Linked DNA regions of Homo sapiens: region 1 is linked to region 2. Evidence: fine-mapped expression QTL. A gene starts in region 2. The other region holds a variant in brackets. All regions are shown on one strand. Distances are between the middles of the regions. Region 1 overlaps FOXO3 (forkhead box O3). Region 2 holds the start of SESN1 (sestrin 1).

Evidence for each region. PIP is the estimated chance that this variant, and not a neighbour inherited with it, causes the effect. A credible set is the group of variants that fine-mapping cannot tell apart.
Region 1: its variant is the best candidate, but not a certain one, in a credible set for the expression of SESN1 in ileum (GTEx, PIP 0.61).

The regions. Positions count from the first base shown.
Region 1 is chr6:108,672,917-108,675,825 of GRCh38, forward strand. All of the region lies in intron 2 of FOXO3 (forkhead box O3), which reads left to right. Among named protein-coding and RNA genes, the nearest start is that of LINC00222, 77 kb to the right of the region's middle. RefSeq lists a silencer at 730-1,024. The variant T/C (reference allele first, on the strand shown) is at 1,296.
Region 2 is chr6:109,093,218-109,096,126 of GRCh38, forward strand. It overlaps SESN1 (sestrin 1), which reads right to left and starts at 1,629. Exons shown (of 10, transcript NM_014454.3): 1 at 578-1,629. The coding sequence starts at 856. CEP57L1 (centrosomal protein 57 like 1) reads left to right here and starts at 2,290. Exons shown (of 11, transcript NM_001271852.3): 1 at 2,290-2,358. RefSeq lists enhancers at 997-1,146, 2,017-2,276 and a silencer at 1,257-1,956.

The DNA of each region.
Region 1 (2,909 bases), 420 kb before region 2:
TCAGTGACTAAGAAGAGAAGGCCAGAGGTAGAAGTCCAAGAATTCTGAGGTCGAAATTTTCAGTTAATTTCCAGTAGGCCTTCATTTCTGTATATGCCACTGTAATTAATTGGGGCTTTCATTGGTCATTTGTATGTTCAAAAAAGATCAGACAGCAATACCGCCCAACGTAGTTATAAGTAATCAGAAAGTGTCTTGACTGATAGACCTGTTGGAAGGTGACCCTAATGTTTACCTGAAAATGCTGCCTGCCCACCGAGTAACAAAAGCCAAAGCACTCCCTGCCCCACTCGTCAGGTTCTACTCAGACTGCCCTGCTGGCTGGAGTGGGGTGCCCCATGGGAGGCAGCCCCAGCCGGCACTTACACCAAGGTGCAGGTGCAGGCCAAGCTGTAAGAAGAGGGCCACCGGGGCCACACACGCAGATTCCCCTCACTACCGGAATCTGCACACCTGGCCAGGGCACTCCTTTGTCTCCCTCAGTTGTGGAGCCACCCTGGAGTTCCTCTCAGTTCCTCTGTGGCACTGGTGTGATGGTTGTTACATGGCCACCATCTGTGTCACCTGTGTGTCCTGGTCATACCTTACAGGTGGTTTGGACTATTTGTAGAACTCAACTAGCTGATTCTGTGTTTTCAGTTTCAGAATCACTTGGAAAAATTAGATTGTCTCTCAGAATCCTGTGTATCTAAAGCAGGAAAAGAGCGCTTTAGAGATCCTCCCTTCAGTATTTGGTAGCTAAACCCTGAGATGGACTGGCAATTACACCTGCATTTCCACCCACCCTCCAGGGATCTAGGGCATCCCAGCCTGCACACTCCTATCATTCATCCCTGCCCCGCCCCCCACATACACACACCCCAGTAAATGCAGTGAAGAGTCATACAGGATAGGGTCACACCCAGCAAACATAAACATTGTGATATGCAGGTCATGTTTGATGACTGAACATTTCCTCCTGTACTACAATTCCCTATTGTTTTTAAAAGGTGAATCACTTTATTGACAGCAGCTTGAAACTTAGAGTAGCAAGACTCTTAATTTGGGGGCTGGTGGTAAGGATATCTATGGTGGGATGTACAGAAAGGATAGGAGAAGATAAACCTTTTATTAAATACTTGAGAATTAGTTGAATGTTAAAATCGTGCCTTGTATTGATTTCATCTGTAAGAAATAGGAGTTTTAGAAATTGAATGATTGGAAACCATCCTTTTCACATAAAGTACTGCAAATCCTAGGTCATATCCCACCAGGCAGTAGGTTCTGCCTGGACTCAGACTAACTCTTGGCAAATA[T/C]GAGTAGGTCATGGAAGCAGTTGCAATGAAAGGATGCTGAGTGTTTGAGTTGGCAAAGAGGAAGAGAGGGTTCTTCCAGGAGGATGGTTCTTTGATTGATTCAGCCAACATTTATAGTGCATCCATTTAGTACTTTCAACTTACCAGGTTCCTTGGGACATCAAGAAAACTGTTGTTTCTTTCACTGGAATATGTGCTGCACGAGGGAAGATACCAGACAGTGCTCTTAAAGTAGTAGGTGCTCCATAAGTGTTTGATTTGATTTGAAGACTTTGCTTAGCTTTCAAGGAGTTCAACATGTTAGGAGCTCAAAGTCCCTGAAAAAGTTGCCATTTCAGGCACATTATGATTAGATACTAGGTGAGTGACTTAAGAATTGAGTCAAGGATAGCGTAGGGAAGGTGGGGCTGCAGGAGCCATCTGAACATGTAGGTGATTTGCTGGGTGGTAAGAAGAGCCGTCCAGGCAAAGTGTCTTTGAACCTGACCCATCGGACAAGCGGAGGGTTTGTTCCCAGAAGCAGTAGTGGGCCTTAAAGCATGGATGAGGACAGTGGAACCTGATCCCACAGGCCTTTACCAGCTAAGGGTTTTGGATATTATAATAAAGTTAAATAACCATGAATTCAGAGAGGATCCAGACACCCTTTAAAGGCTTTTTGCCTAAAAACTGGGCCTTTAAAAAGAACATAATCTAAAAGTGTACATACTATTATACGTGGTTTGCAAATCTGAGAATCTTAAGAAAATACTAAATCTCTGCAACTTTGCTATTGACAGTAAATCAATACCTGTCATATTTCTGCCACATTAGTATTCATAGTCGACTCTGGATATGTGAAAAATATTGGTTAACATAATCCCTGCCTCAACATAAAGTCAGAGATAGGGATTTATCTGTCCCTATCTCTGATAGGGATAGATCAGATAGTTTAAGATAGGGCATTCTTAAACTTATTTTAGCCATTAATAATCGCTAAATTTAAGCAACAGAAAAGCTGGTGCCTCCCAGCAGGTGGCCCCCAGCCCTTTGTCCCTCAGCTATGAAGTATGAGGATGGCTACCTCTCTCCCTGTGTCTCCCTTGGGTTTTATCAGCACAGCACAAAGGCTGGCTGGAAGGGCAGTCCACTCCAGGTCTAGGCTCTGAGGTGTCCTGGAGGCGAAGACTCTGGAGGACCTTGTCACCAGCCTTCCCAGACTGGTTCACCTGCTGCCTTGACCAAGCCCAGGAATTACTGGGAGGCAGTGCAAGGCAGCCTTTACACAAGTCAAGCTTGTGTTTTACACCCTGTCTTCCTGGAGTCCATGTGAGACTTCCTTGTCAGATTGCATTAATATCAATTCCTTATCTCTCCTAAGTGTTCCATATTTAGTCCCCAGCTTGCTCTAGGGGTTGAAAGTTTGGCTAAAATTATCTTTCTTTTTAAAGAGTGAGGAAAGTGGTGTTTCACTTTATTTTTGCTTGTGGGGCAAACTTTCCTCAAATCATCTAGTTCTGTCTAACTAGGAAAACAGTTGATAACCTTCATGGATTTGTGAATGTGAAGGTTTCAACTTATGATCTCTTTTTCCTTCCATGTCCTATTTAGTATTAGGGTCCTGTTCTGTTCTTC
Region 2 (2,909 bases):
TTTGCCATAAAAGTGTTTCTATCAAATACCCCACCTGGGTCCACCTTTTCAACATGAAGATATTAGCTTCTTTTAAGATAGGTTTTTATTATTTTATATAATTCTCTTCTTGAAAAAAGAGAGGTTGCATTTAGAGAACACATCCTGGTTTGTTTTGTTTTTAAAAATAAGAGAAAATTGTTCCACCAATTATCTTGAACAGGCTGACTAGGAAACATTTAATATCCTTTATCATTTTAGAGGCTTTTAAATGTGAGCCTTTACACTCAGAACACTGTGACAATGTGAAAAAAAAACACTGGCTACATTTTCCAACAACATGTAAAAAGAAATATAAGGAAAAACAAGTATTTACTTGGAATTAACTGTAGTTTTCATATATTCTTCCAGGAGCAAAGCAGTTTCTGCCTAAAACTCTAGAAAAACACTACTTGTTTACTTACAGAACACTCTAAAGATGTAAACTCATAATAAAAGTTTACATAACAACCTAATAGAAACAAACACAACGTGAATAACGGCAAGTAAAATTTAACTGTAGTAGAGACATAGTTGTATTTAAAATGCTCTTCCTTACCTGGATGCTCTTCAGAATAAACTCACTTTTCTCTCTCACATCTTTGAAGGGACACCTCTTAGAAAGCATAAGCAGATGAGCAAGTAGCTTATTCAACCCATCCGAAGACTCGGTATTTGAAAGCCCGTCTGATGGACGATGAGGTGTTTCTTTCACCGAACGAAGATACTCGGTTTTCCTCAAAATGGTTTGCCTAATGTTTTCCAATGCTGTCTCCCTAGTAGTTGAATCTCTGCTGCAGAGTCCATCCCATCTCACTTCATTCTCTCCTTCAGCCATGACAATAGTTTTTCCTTTGCGGTCTTCAGTTACCTTTCAGCATGCCCCAAAAAAATTGCTTTGTATTTTTAAAATGAAAAATGTAAAAATAAAATCAGAGAAATCAAATCGTCATGAAAACACACATCTGGGTGACATTTGGAACCACTGGTGCCTTCAGCCGATCTACAAGCTAGGTCACCCTCTCACCCTCTCCTTGTACACGAAAGGGCAGTCTTCTTTCTGGAAAAACAAAGTTTGAAAGTTGCAACCTTGCAGCGCTGGCTTTGGTGGGCAGAGAATTTCGGGGAAGCGTTCTCCTCCGTCTCGCGGGGTCAGTGGATATCCTCACGTTGTGGAGCTGTCAAATCCGTGCTCTGCCCCAAAAGGCTGTTAACAGCTGAACGCCCTCCAGCCATTCGGGGCTTTTTTGTCTGTGCAGCCACCGGGTTCTCTCCGGCGTTCCCACCCCGCCCCTTCTCCGACACCAGTCCCCGCCCTCCGCAGCTCCTCCCAGCGCCTCAGCAGCCGGCCGGCGCCGGCAGGGAAGGCTCGCCGAACCCTGGCCCACTGGCCGCAGCGGCCGGAGGCTTGGGCGCTGTCGGAGGGCGGCAGTCTCGGGCAGCCGTAGTCTCGGCGGGCGGCGGTGAAAAAAAGCGTCCCCCAGCCCCGCCAATTCGGCACCCCCGGGAAGACGCTACTTCTCCGATCCCTGAGCCCTCGCCCACCACCGCCGAGCCAGAGGGCACAGGGCGGCCCTGGCAATCCTCGAGCGCCAGGCTGGGCCGCGGAGCTGGCGGGGCGGCGGGGCCCGAGGCGCAAAGCCCGCCCTTCGCCCAGCCCCATCGGTGGGGATCAGCCCAGAGGGCGGGAGCAGGGAGTGGAGACGGGGTCCTCACCCCCAGCCCCTCCCCTTTCTCCGCCCGGCACAAACCGGGAGCCGCCCCGGCCCCAGCGCCTTCTTCCCCGCCCAGGCAGACGCGACCCGCCGAGGCAAAGCCTTAGGAAAAAGCCCCGCCCTCTGGCAGGCTACCCTCCGGACCCCAAGTGCGCCGCGCGCGGCTGCCAGCCACTGCCGGCTGCTACGCATGCGTGACTGCGAACTGGGCCAAGCGCCCCCGGAGGCGCTAAGCTTGCGCCCTGAGGCGGTTTCCGTTCCCGGACGTTTGGACTCTGTCCTGGAGAAGGGGAAGGAAAAAGTAAGACGTAGAAGTACACTGAGACTTCGTCACACATAAAACAAGCACGACAAAGAAAGAGGGCGCGAAGGGACTCCTGGAAGAAATTGAGTCTACATTTAAGATCACCCTAAAAGTAGTGACGGCCTCTTCATTACTCCAAACCCCAGATTTAAGTCGGTAGGACGTCTTCGCGTTGACTTGTGGGGAATGTAGTTTCGATGCTGCCGGCGCGTTTTGTTTGCGACAGAAACTACAACCCCCAGGGGCCACCGCGACGTTGCCTGTGGGTGCCCGCGAACCAACGGTTAGCGGTGGCAGGGGCTGACTGAGAGCGTCTGCTTGGTAAGCACTGTAAGCTGGGTTGTCACCTTTCCTTGACAGGGTTTTTCCTTCCTCCATTTCCTCTGGGATTTTGGAGACAAAGCCATCTAGGGTGGCCTCCCTTAGTCCAAGGACTTTTTCCAGTGACTTGCGTGGGAAGGACTAGTCCAGCTGCCCAAGCGCGGGGTGTGGTGGGTGAGGCAAGGATTTGGGATCCTGATCCCAAGGGTCGCAGGGAGCGGCCTAAGTAAGGCCAAGAAGGAAGGATGCTGTGGAAACTGGAGCTTCGCGCTGCTGCCTCTGATTCCGCCCTTTTTTGTGGACACACGCGGGGTGGATTTGGGATCTCCGCGCATTTGCACCTTTGTTTGCCTTTGCTTAGGGATGTTCTGGGCTTTATTTGCTCAGTCAAATGAAATCCTAGGCAGGGCTTTGAAAGCAAGTTGTCAAATCCATCTCGTAAAAGAATCCCCAGTATTCCTAGATAGGAATTCTTGCAGGCTTTAAGGATACAGCAGGAAAAAGAAAGCAAAACCGTAAAAGTCTCCAAAACTTAGTCGACTTTTTCAAAA